Regions from separate parts of the Homo sapiens genome. Here region 1 is linked to region 2. Evidence: fine-mapped expression QTL. Tissue or cell type: spinal cord. Region 2 holds a variant in brackets; the other region holds the start of a gene. All regions are shown on one strand. Distances are from middle to middle.

Region 1 (8,189 bases), 53 kb after region 2:
GCACTCCAAATTCCTTTGACCGAACAGGTTCCTACTACCAAATGGAAGAAATTTAAATTGAGACAGAGTCTCGCTCTATCCCCCAGCTCAATCCCCCACTGGAGTGCAGTGGCGTGATCTCGGCTTCAGCTGACTCCAACCTCCGCCTCCCGGGTTCGAAAAATGCTCATGCCTCAGCCTCCCGAGTGGCTGAGATTACAGGCATCTGCCACCAAACACCGCTAATTTTTGTATTTTTTAGTAGAGATGGGGTTTTGCCATGATGGTCAGGCTGGTCTCCAACTCCTGACCTCAGTTGATCCACCCACCTTGGCCTCCCAAAGTGCTGGGATTACAGGCGTGAACCACACCTCCTGGCCAAAGTTTAAATTTTCTTCTAAGTATCTAAGGAAACCTTGCTCAGTTAGAGTCCTCCCCTATCAAAAAAAAGCCTTAAGTCCCCAGGAACATCAACATATCTAGTTACAAGTTACAATTTACCTTGATCTACACCTTATTTAGATGTTTCCGGTGCTTGTTAACTTCTATAAAAATTCAGGAACTACTTTTAGAATGGACAAGCTCAAACACATAAGGATCTGTGTGCATGGATTAACTGAGAACAGGCCTTAAAAGTTGCCAAATAGCTTTAGTCAAAAACATTTGGAGGCTGAGGCCTTAAGGTTTGCTTAAATGCATGTTACTAACAACAGCCAATGTTCATAGCGTTTTTACAACGTGCAGACCACTGCACTGATTAGTTTAACACAGATTATCTCATTTATTCCTGTCAACATGCCTGCGAGAAAACCAATACAGAGAAAGGTTAATTAACTTGTCCAAAGACACCCAGCTATTAAGCCATCAAATGGGATTTCAACTACTTGAAGTCTCTGAACGCAGAAGCATTTTGCCTCGTGGGTTTCTAACAGGTTTACTAGATACTGTGCCTGGAATTGGTGGGGTTTTGGTCTCACTGACATCAAGAACGAAGCCGCAGACACTCGCGGTGTGTTAACAGTTCTTAAAGTCAGTGTGTCCAGAGTTTGTTCCTTCTGAGGTTCGGATGTGTTGGGAGTTTCTTCCTTCTGGTGGGTTCGTGGTCTCACTGGCTGCTGGCGTGAAGCTGCAGACTTTGGCGGTGAGTGTTACAGCTCTTAAGACAGCTCGGCTGGATTTGTTTACTCCTCCCTGTGGGTGCGTGGTCTCCACGGCCTCAGGAGAGAAACTGCACACCTTCGCGGTGAGTGTTACAACTCATAAAAGCAATGTGGACCCAAAGAGTCAGCAGCAGCAAGATTTATTGCAAACTGCGAGAAAACAAAACCACCACACGCTGCAAAAGTATCCAAGCGGGTTACCGCTGGTGGCTGAGGCAGCCTGCTTTTATTCTCTTATCTGGCCCCATCCACATCCTGCTGATTGGTCCATTTTACAGAGAGCCAATTGGCCTGTTTTTCAGAGCTGATTGGTCCATTTTGACAGGGTGCTGATTGGTGCGTTTACAATCCCTGAGCTACACACAAAAGTTCTCCAAGTCCCCACTAGATTAGTTAGATACAGAGTGCTAATTGGTGTATTTACAAACCCTGAGCTAGATACAGAGTGTTGATTGGTGCATTTACAAACCATGAGTTAGATACAGAGTGCTGATTGGTGTATTCACAATCCCTTAGCTAGACATAAAGATTCTCCAAGTCCCCATCAGATTAGCTAGATACAGAGTGCCCATTGGTGCATCCACAAACCCTGAGCTAGACACAGGGTGCTGATTGGTGTGTTCACAATCCCTTAGCTAGACATAAAGGTTCTCCAAGTCTCCTCTAGACTCAGGAGCCCAGCTGGCTTCCCCCAGTGGAGCCGGCACTGGGGCCACAGGTGGAGCTGCCTGCCAGTCCCGGGCTGTGAGCCCGCACTCCTCAGCCCTTGGGCGGTAAATGGGACCGGGTGCTGTGGAGCAGGGGGCGGCACTCGTCAGGGAGGCTCGGGCAGCGCAGGAGCCCACGGGTGGGTGGTGGGGAGGCTCAGGCATGGCTGGCTGCGGGTCCGAGTCCCACCCCGCTGGGAGGCAGCTGAGGCCTGGCGAGAATTCGAAGGTAGCGCCGGTGAGCCGGCATTGCTGGGAGACTGGGCACACCCTCCGCAGCTGCTGGCCCGGGTGCTAAGCCCCTCACTACCCGGGTCTGGCGGAGCCGGCCCGCCGCTCTGAGTGCCGGCCCGCCAAGCCCACGCCCACCCGGAACTCTAGCTGGCTCGCAAGCGCCCGCACAGCCCTGGTTCCCGCCCGTGCCTCTCCCTACACACCTCCCCGCAGGCTGAGGGAGCCGGCTCCGGCCTCCGCTATCCCAGGAAGGGGCTCCCACAGTGCAGCGGCGGGCTGAAGGGCCCCTCAAGCGCGGTCAGAGTGAGCGCTGAGGCCGAGGAGGCGCCAAGAGTGAGCGAGGGCTGCGAGGGCTGCCAGCAGGCTGTCACCTCTCAATACTTCCTTTTTGTTATTTAGCTGCTAGCACAAAGATTTTACTGGGTTATCTCAGCCTTTTGCTGCCAGGACCTAGATAAAAGCAGTGGCTCCTTGACCAACCTATTAGGTAAACTTAAAAGAGAGCCATTTGGCAGTGAGTCAATAATCATCTAGGAAGTACTCAGTAAATTTGTGCTGAATGAATGAATCTGTTCATTCATTTTAATAACCATTAAAGAATTTTTTAAAGTCAAAGAGAGGTTGTCTGAAACCCTTCCCTCATTAAGTGCTCACATTAAACCTTGTACATTCCATTTTGGTGATTCAGGAAGGAGAAATTGCAGAAAAGTTGAGGGAGGTGGGGAGTAAGAAGGGTTATTTTGTAAGAAAAAAAAAGGCAAGGTGCTAGACCCAAAAAGATCCGGATATTCACTTCCAACATAATTCTTATTTAACGAAAGGTCAGAAATTCAATGTGAGGGTAGACACTAAAATTGAAGAGACTCAGAGTGATTTTTCAAAAATTTTTGTCAGAACTCCATCGTCACTCCAAAATGCTGAGATCTTCGAGAAAGTGATGTTGAAATTCGTCTTGGTCGCCGGGATGCTTCCCAGGAGAGTGCCCAGAGTTTCACTAACGAAAGATGGGTATTTAGCATAGCCATGGTCTGAGCGGGCAAAATGCACAGTCCCAGTGACTGAGAGGAGGCCAGCGGAGCGCGCGGGAACGAGGGTGGGGCCGCTCCCGGCTGGGCGCAGCTCGGGAGCCCCCTGCAGTGGACCCAAGTCGCCGCCAGATGGTTCCCGAGGATTAGGATCACGGGCACTTCCGGTCCCCTCGGTCAGCCCCTGGGCTAGCCTCTGGGCCGGCGCCTAGGCCGGCCAACGCGGACGCCGGGTTGCGGTGATTCCCAGCGGCGAGGTCAAGAGTCATTGGCCTGGGGCTGCAAGCGCCTCGCGCCTGGGCTACCCCGCGCCCTGCGCTCTGAGGGCGATGATCCGGGACGGGGAGGCGCGCGCCGCGGGCGGCCATAGGCCACGGCGCGGGGCGGGAGGGGGCGCGGCGAGGCCCGCGGCGGGGCAAAACCGGCCTGGGCCCTGGCGGCCGCAGGAGCGCGTGCGGCGTGGACTTTGCCGGGCTCGCCACACAGCCCCAGACCCGTTTAGGACCGGGAGACCGAACGCAGCGTCCAGCCGGGGAGTTTCGGCGGCGTTCTCCGGGCACCGCGCGCGGGAAGCCAGACGCAGCGGGGGGACACATCTCGCGGTGGCGTTGCCAGAGTGAGGAGTTAGCAGGCAGGACTTGACGAGGCTCTTTGGTTTTTCTAGTCCTCAACCACTGAAGAAGAAGCTTGATGCTTGGCTGTCAGAAGACATGAATTACGCACGGTTCATCACGGCAGCGAGCGCAGCCAGAAACCCTTCTCCCATCCGGACCATGAGTGAGAAACGGGGTGACCATCTCTCCTTTGGGGTGGGGCATTCCTCGCACAGCCTCTAAGGAGGGTTCCCTAGCAAGCCACCGCTTGGTTGCATCCATGCGTACCCCTGTGCACGCTCGCGGTGAGCCAGGCTCTGCGTGCAGAAATGAAATAGACACAGCCTTTGTTCTCAAAGAACTCGGGCTGAAACGGAAGGCGGGTATTTCTGCTGGAGCAGAGTAGGAGCAACAGTAGAGAGAGGCGCAGACTGCTGTGGGGCACGGCCTTGGAAGGGAGGGGGCGTGCTATCAAGAAAGGCTCTTCCTGGGAAGCTGAGAAGGGGCATGCACAGCGTGCAGATGGGTGTACAGTGGAGAGGGCCAGGTAAATGGGAGAGGGGTGGGCCATGAAGCTCACAGACAGGTCGGGGCTAAGTGGAGGAGGGCTTCTGCTATTGTGGCCCTTTGCTGTCTTTCTGATCCCTCTGCCTTCTCTTTGGTCACCTTCATTCTTTAGTCCCTCCACAAGTGAGGTGCCTAGAAAAAGTTATTCTGTATGTTTATTTTAGACTAGCTTTTGTCTTAGTCCATTCAGGCTGCTATAACAAAATACCACAAACTGGGTAATTTATGAACAATAGAATTATTTCTCACAGTTCTGGAAGCTAGGAAGTCTAAGATCAAAGTGCCAGCAGCTTCTGTGTCACCATGGTGAGAGCCCTTCCTTATAGACAGAGCCATCTTGCTGCATCCTCACGTGGTAGAAGGGAGAACCTATGTCCTCACGTGGCAGAAGGGCCAAGGGCATTCCCTCAGCCCTCTTTTATAAGTGCACCAATCCCATTCAGGAGGGTGGATCCCTCCTGACCTAATCACCTCTAGAGACCCCACCTGTTAAAACTATCACATTAGTATTAACTTCCAAGTATGAATCTGGGGGAGCACCAACATTTAGACCATAGCACACTCTATCACTAGAAATCGTTAAACTTTATAGTTTTATTGACTATAATGCATGCTTAACTATCCGCTTATAACAATCTTCAATGAAATTGTTTCTTCTCTTCCATGTGTATTGTAGCTGACATATTGAGCAGAGGACCAAAATCGATGATCTCCTTGGCTGGTGGCTTACCAAATCCAAACATGTTTCCTTTTAAGACTGCCGTAATCACTGTAGAAAATGGAAAGACCATCCAATTTGGAGAAGAGATGATGAAGAGAGCACTTCAGTATTCTCCGAGTGCTGGGTAAGTATCAATACTTAACATAATTTTATTGGCTTATTTTCATAAGAAATATTCTAAGGCCCATTGATAAAGAATATTAAAGAAATATTCTAAGGTCCATTCATAAATATTCTAAAGCCATTGACCCATTTGGTCATTCAATGACCAAATACTCAGTCATTGAATACTAACCAAATGAGTATTCAATGGTTAGGAAGGTCTGGGGAAAGGTTTTCAAAGGATAATTAAGAACAGAAAGGATATTGAATGTTTAACACTCCTCAGTGATTGCTTCTCAATCGCAAATGACCAAGAAGGCTTCTAGAAGGAAATACCATTAGAGCTGAGTCCAAAAAAATGAGAAGATGTCCAGGTGAAACAAACATATCAGGAGAAATGAAGAAACGGAAGATCCAGGAAGCTTCAACTTTTTAAAGTTTAAGCATCCTGGATCTTCCGTTTCTTCATTCTATAGTCTAAACAAGCAGTCATGCAAATACATTGAATATAGTCATTCATTTCTATAGTCTAAACAAGCAGCCATTCAAATACATTGCCCTCATAGGTTCAAATGTCTTTAATTTCTTAAAGGCAAGCTGAAACATATACCTTGACTTTCTTAGCTGGTCTTCTTCAAGTGATAAAGGATAATTTATAGAGAATCTATAAATTATACTTTATTAAAACCTGCTTTGTTCTGTGATTGAAAAGTGTATTGAAATGTTATTCATGTATATATGTGTTAGTTATGTAATATGTTAAATATACATAGGCTTATTCAAACATTCCATGATACAAACAACTTATTGAGTCTGAACTTCTAGGTAGCCATAGAACTCTTCCTAGAGAGAACAAAGAATCGATTATGCAACGCATGCGCTAAAGACTTCAGGTTTGGAATAAGAAAGATGTAGATTCAAATCTCAGCTCATTTATTACGTAATTGACTTTCTGAGAATTTCTGGCTGAATGACTTACAGGAATTTCCTAATCTCTAAGTCTACTGCCTATCTTTTAAATAGGAATATTCATACTGGCAAAAAGCATTTGAGGGTTTTTTAATTGAGTGTACAAAGTGCTTGATAAAGCTGTCATTTATTATTTCCTGTCTACTACTGTTACTATGATTTTTACTACTATGAATTTAAATATACATTTTTTGCTTTAGAATTCCAGAGCTTTTGTCCTGGCTAAAACAGTTACAAATAAAATTGCATAATCCTCCTACCATCCATTACCCACCCAGTCAAGGACAAATGGATCTATGTGTCACATCTGGCAGCCAACAAGGTCTTTGTAAGGTAAGACTGAAAGGAAAACTCAGCCAAAATGTAGAATTGGAAGCATTCATTTCTATAGTCCTCTCGCACTTAACCACAGAGAATTATATTTTATGGATTACTGGTAGTCTTTCTTGTCTTCACCTAGAATTATAAACAGGGAACTAAAAGACAAGTCATAGGATGGGGGTGGGAGCAGTTGTGGCCGGGGATGGGCAAGGGTGGGTAGGGGGTGTTGACTGTAAGCAAAAGCCAGGTGGAAATATTGTAGGTTGATCTATCAATATTTCCCCCTAGTTTTCCTCATTGTGAACACAAGGACTTTGAAAAATTACCTGCTCTTAACATCATTCACTAGCCTAATCTTTCTTAAATATTAAATACAGAGCATGTGGTCAATTACCCAGACCTATTAACCATTAAAGCAGGATGCCCACTAAGGGAGTACTCAACTCCTACCAAAAGCTTAGTGAACACTGCTTAATTTCATCTGGCTCAAAAATTCAAGTTACGTTTGATTTCCGCCTATAGTTAGGAAATTTCAATACAATTTTTAAATTTTTTAGAGGGCATGCTTTCATATTCCTGAGATACACATATTTATATTCTTTTACATATCTGTCTGTAGAATCTCTCCTTGCCACTGCTTGTATCTTGTCCCCCTCTTGGGTGTATTTCTCTAGATCTATTTATATGTCTGTATTTCTGACTTCTTATATGGATTGGTTCTCTCTCCCTCTCCCCCTGGCATTAGTTATTCCATCTTCTTCCCTTCTGGGTTCCGGGAACTCCACAGATGTAAACACCACTGGTTAGTTGCCACAATAAAGAGACCACATCTGTGGTCCTCAGTTTGATCTGTTATTTTCTTTTCTTTCTTTTTTTTTTTTTGAGACAGGGTCTCACCCTGTCACCCAGACTGGAGTGCGGTGGCGCAATCACGGCTCCCTGCAGTCTCGACCTCCCTGGGCTCCAACAATTCTTCCACCTTAGCCTCCCAGGTAGCTGGGACTGCGGGTGCACACCAATATGCCTAGCTAATTTTTATATTCCTTTGCCATGTTGGACAGGCTGGTCTTGAGCTCATGGGCTCAAGCAGTCTGTCCACCTTGGCCTCCCAAAGTGCTGGTATATTTTCTCCTTTGTTTTCCATGAATAATAAGATTCTCTATATTCATTCTCAGATCTAAATTAATCTATGACTCCCATTTATCTTTATCTTAAACCAGAGTAGTTTTCTTTTTCATGGAAATATGAAAACTGTAATCTGGTTTGCTTTAATGAATTTTAATTAAATTATTGTTACAGAATAATGGGTTACAGTAGTAAAAACATTTTTTAAAGTTTTTAAAAATTAAAAAAACTTACCCTTTTTGTATTTAATTAGGAAAAGTAAAAGAATTAGCTAGTGTTTGAGTCTTTGCTTGAAGAGAAACATTTGTGATTGTATAGAATGATATAAGAGTATTTTTTAATGAAATAAATTCTTTCCTCAAGAAAGGATACTATGGACTTTTTCTTCCAGAAAGTTGCTCAAGACAGTTTCTTCTTTATCCATCACAACACCAGTTACACAAAAAAGGAAGATAGCATAGATTGCTAAATACGTCAATAACTTACTACTTACAGACATGCTTATTATAGGGGCACTAATATGTATCTGGTTTAATATTTCTTCCACTTTGTTCTCCAGGAGTCATGTTATTTTAGACTCCTGTGTTTCTCTCTCATCTTTTAAACAGTGCTCCCAGATGATAAACAGCCTTCCCTTCTAATTTAGGATATTTGAAATTTGTATGTCCCCTAACTGATATGAAAAA
Region 2 (8,189 bases):
GCCAAAAGGCTTCAGGTTGAATAGTCTTATTTTGTTGTTGACATTTTCAAATCCTATCTTGAAGCCTTTCTACAAAAAAGGAAAGAGATAGCAAAAAACAAGTTTTAATGCCTAGTTATGGCTAGTCTTTTAAATAAAAATGAAAATTCGAAACTCTAAAATAAACATCCTTCTTAGTCTCTTTATATGAGCTATAGGGAAAAAAAAGAAAGAAATATATCTGAATCTGTAAATGAGTCAGAAATGCTCAGAAATATGTTTCATTTCATAATGCCTAGCATTTTTAGAAATCAAATTAGTGAACACCTGTGCCATGGAAGATTTATATATTAGAGTTCATGCTGCAACTACAGTTTCCCTACAATATCAATTTCAAATGACAACCTGTGGTTTTGTGCCACAGCATTTGTCTCAGCATTTGTCAAAAGTCATTTCATTTCCTATGATTCATTTCATTTATATTCTGGTGTATTAACTGGATACTTTATTGATCCTTGCTCCATCTAATTGTGGCTTTCACAACACAGACAAAAATTTGATTTGAAAGATAAGTATTATAATCTACTCACCGGTAACAGTGATGACATTAACAAAATTATGTTTAGGTAGGTTGTAGTATTGAGGTGAGTTAAAAAGAGTTCTGATTTCAGAATAAAAATGTAGTCTTTTTCCATATATTCCCATCTTCTTATTTATGTGCAAATATATAATTAAGAGATGATATAAATGCTCCACAAATCAGAACATGTCATCACATTTTTACTTTCCTGATTAATAGTTTAAGCACTATTTGCCACATTAGCAGAAAATACAGTATTCATTTATACAATAAATATTCATTGAGTCACTACTATGTGTCGGTCATTGTTCTATGCGCGGGACACATCAATAAACAAAATGAGCAGGAATTTCTACTTCCAGTTAGCTTACATTCTCCTAGATCTTTCTTTAGAGGCAAACTTATCCTTACATTACCCAAGAACGTAATAGCTTTCTCAGCCCAAATATGAGAATGCAGTCCAACTTCTATATCCAAGCAAAAAGAAACTTTACTCTTCTAACAGTGTTACTAATGCCACTGCTTCTTGCTGGCACATGGGAGCTAATACCCCTAGTCCCCTTTCAAGAGATGATGCTGATTCTGATGCTGGTTTTGGTGCTGGTCATCGGGGCTGGTATTCATTCTGTTCCCACAGAGGAACCAAGTAGACCTTAAAGAGAGGATAACCCAACTCTTTCTGAATTAGACCAAGACAGAACAGGCCTTTCTATCTCCCTTAGTCACCCATCCTTAGCCTGTCCGAAGGGGCAAGCCCAGGAGCAGTGTGCTTAGTTTCCTCCCTTTGTAGACCCTAAGCCACTGTCACTTTTTCCTTCTAAGGAATCAACTTCCTCAAAGATCAAGCAGGTATTCCTTTCCATCTGGGAAACACAGAGTCTGATTACATCTCTCTTCTTACATAATGGAAGTATTCTCTTCACCCTCCAGAGGGCATTACACTGTTCATTCATCCATCCATTCATCCATTCACACACACCTACTCTGTGTCAAATGCTACTCTCAGCTCCAGCTGCATCCAGGAAGACCCTTTGTCAGGAAACTGCCTTCATATCCACAAAGGACAACAAGTTCTGATAGTTCTCTCCCTAGAATGAAGGGGAGGAAAACACCTCATAGGACCTTTAGCTGGGCATCCATCCTATTACATATGTGAGTGGATTATAAACAATAAAAAACTGATTAATATTTTAAAATATCCAGGTGATAATAAGCACTATAACAATGGAAATTATTATCTATTTCATTATCAAAACAATCCAGGCAGGTGCAGTGGCTCACGCCTGTAATCCCAGCACTTTGGGAGGCTTAGGTGGGTGGATCACCTCAGGTCAGGAGTTCAAGACCAGCCTGGCCAACATGGTGAAACCCAGTCTCTACTAAAAAAAAAAAAAATACAAAAATTACCTGGGCATGGTGGCGGATGCCTGTAATCCCAGCTACTTGGGAGGCTGAGGCAGGAGAATCGCTTGAACCCAGGAGGCAGAGGTTGCAGTGAGCCGAGATCATGCCATTGCACTCCAGCCTGGGTGACAAAAGCGAAATTCTGCCTCAAAAAAAAAAAATCCATGAGTAAGTGTGAACTTTAAGAATTATTTTAGCAAGAAAATATACCTGAATTCTCAAATAAGCCACCTTGTAGCTGTTGGTTTTATTTTATATTTTCCAAAACCCTGTGTAAACTACCCTCTACCAACATGAAAAAACAACCAAACAACAAAACAATCTAACCAGCCATGGATACTACTCAACCATAAAAAGGAATGAAATAATGGCATTTGCAGCAACCTGGAAGGAATTGGAGACCATTGCTTTAAGTGAAGTAACTCAGGGATGGAAAACCAAACATCATAAGTTGTCACTCATAAGTAGGAGCTAAGCTGTGAGGATGCAAAGACATAAGAATGACACAATGGACTTTGGAGACTGCGGGGGGAATGCTGGGTGGAGATGAGGAATAAAAGACTACAAATTAGGTACAGTGTATACTGCTCGGGTGATGGGGGCACCAAAATCTCAGAAATCACCACAAAAGAACTTATTCATGTAACCAAACACTACCTGTTCCCAAAAACACCTATGGAAATAAAACATAAAAACAAAACTCATCAGGTATTCATTTCTTAAGATTTTCCACTTAGGACAAATTATTGACTCAGAGCGTTAGAAGAGTCTTTAGCCGGATGAGTTCATGTCCTTTGTAGGGACATGGATGAGGCTGGAACCACCATTCTGAGCAAACTATCGCAAGCACAGAAAACCAAACACCGCATGTTCTCACTCATAGGTGGGAATTGAACAATGAGAACACTTGGACACAGGGTGGGGAACATCACCCACTGGGCCTGTCGTGGGGTGGGGGGAGGGGGAGGGCTAGCATTGGGAGATATACCTAATGTAAATGATGAGTTAATGGGTGCAGCACACCAACATGGCAGATGTATACATATGTAACAAACCTGCACGTTGTGCACATGTACCCTGGAACTTAAAGTATAATACAAAAAATAAAAATAATAATAATAAAAAAGTCCTTAGCCTTAGTAAGATCCACGCTTAGCCTCTGAATCCCCTTGGCCACATTTAAATGGCTATTGGCCTATACTCAGTACCTCCAAGTTCAGGCCACTCTCTTCCCCTTGAGTCACCCTCGCCCTAATTCACTTTTAATAGCTCTGACAGTAACAAGCATTTCACATGGTACTGTACCATCTGTCTCCTGTAGCTTCAAGCTACTGGTACTAAACAATGTATTTTTGACTTATATAATTCTTCTTTTCAATGACAAGCACTGAAATATGTGAAAAGTTTTGAATCTCCATTTTTTTCTCTTGCAACTATCCTCAAATGATATTGTTTCCAGTCCATAAATAAAGTCACTATTCTGAACATACCTTGGTTTGTCCATGTCTCTCTTAAAGAGTAATGCCAATACTCTTGTTATCCAGAATTTACACATCTAAGAATTTTCTTTAGGGAAATGTTCAGGAATATAAGCAAATGTTTATCTGTAATAATGTGCATCATAGCATTACTTCTAATATTTAAGAATAATAGTGTAGTATACCTATATGATAAATTTTAAAAGTGTTTGAATAGACAACAGAATGTCACTTAACTGAGAAACTGAGATATGTTGTCAAGTGGGGATAAAAGATGACAAAACAAAATGTGATCATATGTACATATGTATTTATGTGTGTGTGCATATATCTGAAAGAAGACATAACAAAATGTTAATGATTCTATCCGATCAGCGGGGTTATAGATTATTTTTAATTGATGTATTTTTCTGTGCTTTCTAGATTTTCTACAGTGATAATATATTACTTTGTAATAAAAATAATCAATGTTATTTTTGAAAGAAAAGCATATTGCTAAAACCTGAAAGCAGTTCCCAGGTGTGGCCTGATCAACTCACAAGAGGAGGATTACACCCACTCACTCACTCAAATTCACTTCCACTAATATTGTTTAACATATTGATGTTTCTGCTGCTACATTACAGTTGATTCATTTGAGAATATTCTTCTTTATAGCCCCTAAGACATTTTCACAAACATTACTGCTAAATCTGTAGCATCTTGTTCTTAAAGATTAGATGGGGTTTTTTGTCTTGTTAGTTGTAATTTATAAGTTTTATCCTTAAAATAATGGATCCCATTACTGCCACCTCAATCTCCACCAGTCCCACTGAACCTCTACCATGCCCAACCTGGAAATGCTCAGGACCACTCTCAGAAACAGGTGAACAGGTGGGTGTGGATCTGAGTGAGGTGATCACCACCAAAGTTCAACAATCAGGACAACAGAGTAGAGACTGGTGAGCATGTAAGAGGCAACACTGCCTATATCACACAGAAGGGCTGACAAGAAATTAAGG[A/T]TAACTCAGCGACCTCAATGGTCAACACTTGTGAAATTACATCATCATCCAGAGTGATGTTCCCATATGCCTAACGAGATAGAAGGAACATGAGCTGTGCTCTAATTCTGCAAAAATTGTAACCAATATGCTTTCAGTTGTTGGGGTGGATCACATATTTACGATGGAGGTGCTTCTCAGATACATGAGAATCTCTCAAGTATCAAATCAAGTAAAAAATTACTCTTGGATACAGTTTTTGTTTTGTTTTGTTTTGTTTTGTTTTGAGACAGAGTCTCACTCTGTCATCCAGGCTGGAGTGCATTGGTGAAATCTCGGTTCACTGCAACTTTCACCTCCCAGGTTCAAGTGATTCTCTGTCTCAGCCTCCCAAGTAGCTGGGATTACAGGTGCTCGCCACCACGCCCGGCTAATTTTTTTGTATTTTTAGTAGAGACAGGGTTTCACCATGTTGACCAGGCTGCTCTTGAACTCCCGACCTCAGGTGATCCACCTGCCTCGGCCTTCCAAAGTGCTGGGATTACAGGCATGAGTCACTGCACCCGGCTGCAGAAAACCTCTTTTAAACATTCCTATGGATAACCCTAAACACTGCAGTGGATTCACGAAAAATATTATAGAATGAAAGAACTGTATCATTACTTCCCCTCATGCAACCGGTTCCAAAACTGTTACCTAATGCAGGTAAACAAATTCAATGCTGAATTCACTTTGAGTGATAAAGGGAGAAAGAAAGTCAATGGATGGATAGGGTGGTTTTGTTTGGTGATCTTAAAAGTGTGTGACTATCCTCATGAATAAAAAGGCTGACAAATGTAGCCAATATGTCACACTGTAGACAGGCTATTCTTAGCTGGAATCATGAAAGTTTAAGATATTCTTGCTCATGAAGACTTCTCTGTCTAGTTATTTTCAGAATAAATAAGGCTGCCTTAAGCCTGTCAATGTCAAAAATACAGTTTCCAAAGAGACAAAATGAAAGTTCAGGATTCAGGCTGTTGCTATTTTAATGATCTTGATAAGCTGATCTAGAACTCACAGAGAGAGATTTATGCCTTACCTATTTAACCATGTCTCACTGTAATACCAAATATTGTGTTTTGAACTATTATATTCTGTTACGTTTTTGCTTGTTTTTGTTTTGTCATACTTCTAATGTTAAGATTCAACAATGCTGTTAAACAGAAAAACCTTAGACCAAATTTAAATTTAACTGACTTTATTTGAGCAGAGGAAAGCAAAGCAAAGTAAAAACAGAATGAAAATGATTCACAAATCAGGCAGTCCTCTGAACCAGGGCAGGTTCAGAGAACTCCAACTAATAACATGATCTGACAGCATTTATAGGAAACAGAAGTACGGTGTACAGAAAACTGAATTGGATACAGCTTCATTGGTTAACTGGCTACGGAGCGTCCTGCAGTAACTAAAGCTCAGCTCCTGGAGTTCAACTTTATGTTGGTTTGGTCTGTCAGGCCTAGTGCAGGAACCTAGTTTATTTTGGTTAACAATACTAAAGTTATATATATATATATATATATATTATATATATAGTGCTTAATGTTTATCTCTATCACACTTCTTTTAGAGTTTGGTTCATCTTTCTATCATGTTAGGACCGCTTTCATCTGATTCTGTCATTTAGGGTTTTTTTTCATGAACCCTCTTAACTCTGTGTCATCCACATGTTTGGTGAGTGTGTCCTTCATATCTTTATCCAAATCCCTGATGAACGTATTGAACAGAATACGGGCCACAACAAGGCTCTGATATTTACCAGCAGAAAACATATCAGATTAGCAATGTGTGGTTCAATGTTCAGCCAGAAACTCATCAAGCTAATAGTATTACGATCCAACCCATAATTCTTCCTCTGTGTGATATCATATAACATCAACAAAAGACTTTACAGATGATATTGGACTTTTTCAAGAAATTAAGAAAGTAATCTTTTTGTTTCACACATAAACCAATGAACTCAGAAGTCAGAAATGTATTAAAACAGAGTTGAGCCCTACCTTAAGAGTAAAGGGACTTACAAAACCTTATTTGCATTTACTGTCTCAAGTAGGGAAATACTTACCCCAATGTATTCCCCTCCTGACCTGACACTTTATCATGGACCCATAGTATCCATTCTGCCCCATAAACAGGAATCAGACATAAGGAATCAAGTCTTATTCATCTCTATTTAGTCTACAATGCCTAGCATAGAATTTCATACACGATACTGTGGAGTTTACTTCATGACTTTCTTAGGTTAGGATGGTCCTAGCAAAACAGAAACTTCTGCCACACTGCTCATCCCATTAGAAGTCCAGTGGTCACTCGAGTTTACTATTTCATATGGTATTGCAGAAAGGAAACCTAGACATAGGTTTGCCAAAATATGTGTCATGCTCAAGGCATGGCGCAGAACACAGATTCCCCCATAACCAGATGATGAGGTAATTGGCTGATAATATCTCTGGGTGTAGGCAGGGATGTTGCTACTACTAGGCAGTCAATATCTTAGTCATTGATACTAGCTGTTATTGACTTTGAATGAAGCACGATCCTCCATTTAATAAAAATAATGACTATTTAATGAGGACAGCTGGCCCAGCTAGGTCATCCCTGAGCCACAGGTTTGGACACAAAGAATACACCCATTCCAGGTCATCAACCACGCTCAGACCTCTCAGGGGCATGAATACAGGCTCTCCCTAGCCAAGTCCATCCTTTTGCTGACTTCGTCCCCTCTTTAGTAGTCTCTTCCTGCTCTGCCCAAACTCTCATTATCCCTTCCATGCAAAAGACCTCATTCTCATTCTGCTTCTTTTCTCACAATAGAACTCAATGTGGCCTCCTTCCCCTGACAAACATTAGAAGCAACACAGAATGTATTTATCCTTTTCTAAGAGAGAGATCTTATATTTTTAGAAAAATTATCCTATCTATACACTCCAGTGGATAAACGATATCCTTTATATGTGTTAGGGAATTTTCATATTCCCTAAATATTCTTCTGAATACATCAGGAACAAATACTTGAGTGTTTACATCAAAACATAAGATGATTCTATGCTGCACACAAAACTAAATAATGTTTGTTCAGTGAATCAATGACTTTATATAATACTTTATATAAGATGTCATACTTTGTATAAGATCGTTACACAAGGTACTTTAGATATTAAAAGATACTGAAAGATATTTTATAGACATTATACATTTATATTTTATGTAAGATATTTATATCATCCTTTATATAAGATATTTTGGATCTGGTGCACTAAGAGGCCTATGGATGGGAGTGTAGATATGGTATACTGCCGAACACTTCTCAGAAAAGAAGAGCAAAAATGTTGAGACCTAGAAAGCAGTGAAATGGAATTAAGGAGTTCTGTTCTTCAATAAGCCAGAAATTTGAGGCAGGTGAATGAGGTTCAGGCAGAGAGCATAGGTTAGCAGGAGATTGGCACAAACATCCGAAAACAATGTATAAGTGTGGGGCAAAGATTCGGAAGAACTGTAAATCAAGTGTTGGGTCTAAGCCTAAAATACCGTCTCTGAATCCTACGGCTGAAAACAAGTGCGCGAGCGACACCTAGTGTTCAAGTCCATAAATGATGCTGCGTCAAGGCTTCCTTTCCTTTCCTGGAGCCCACGCTGCAAGGACCGCCCGCTCCTCGGTTAGGTACAACTCTCATCTGCGTACACAGCAGATACAAACCGCTATATTAGAAATTAAGGCCTTCAGAGAAG

Which allele goes with the higher level. Alleles are on the strand shown, and positions count from the first base shown. SD is a standard deviation of normalised expression in the study named.
For the expression in spinal cord of the gene that starts at base 3,550 in region 1, allele T in region 2 goes with a lower level than allele A (moderate effect, 0.52 SD a copy in GTEx).

What was found. PIP is the estimated chance that this variant, and not a neighbour inherited with it, causes the effect.
Region 1: it holds the start of AADAT, and the variant in region 2 is fine-mapped to the expression of AADAT in spinal cord (GTEx, PIP 0.97).

Annotation. Positions count from the first base shown.
Region 1 is chr4:170,085,317-170,093,505 of GRCh38, reverse strand. It overlaps AADAT (aminoadipate aminotransferase), which reads left to right and starts at 3,550. Exons shown (of 13, transcript NM_016228.4): 1 at 3,550-3,882; 2 at 4,942-5,110; 3 at 6,258-6,390. The coding sequence starts at 3,816. RefSeq lists an enhancer at 1,440-2,134 and a silencer at 4,034-4,328.
Region 2 is chr4:170,138,629-170,146,817 of GRCh38, reverse strand. No RefSeq gene overlaps it. Among named protein-coding and RNA genes, the nearest start is that of AADAT, 53 kb to the right of the region's middle. RefSeq lists an enhancer at 1,089-1,258 and silencers at 7,966-8,115, 7,886-8,180. The variant A/T (reference allele first, on the strand shown) is at 4,443.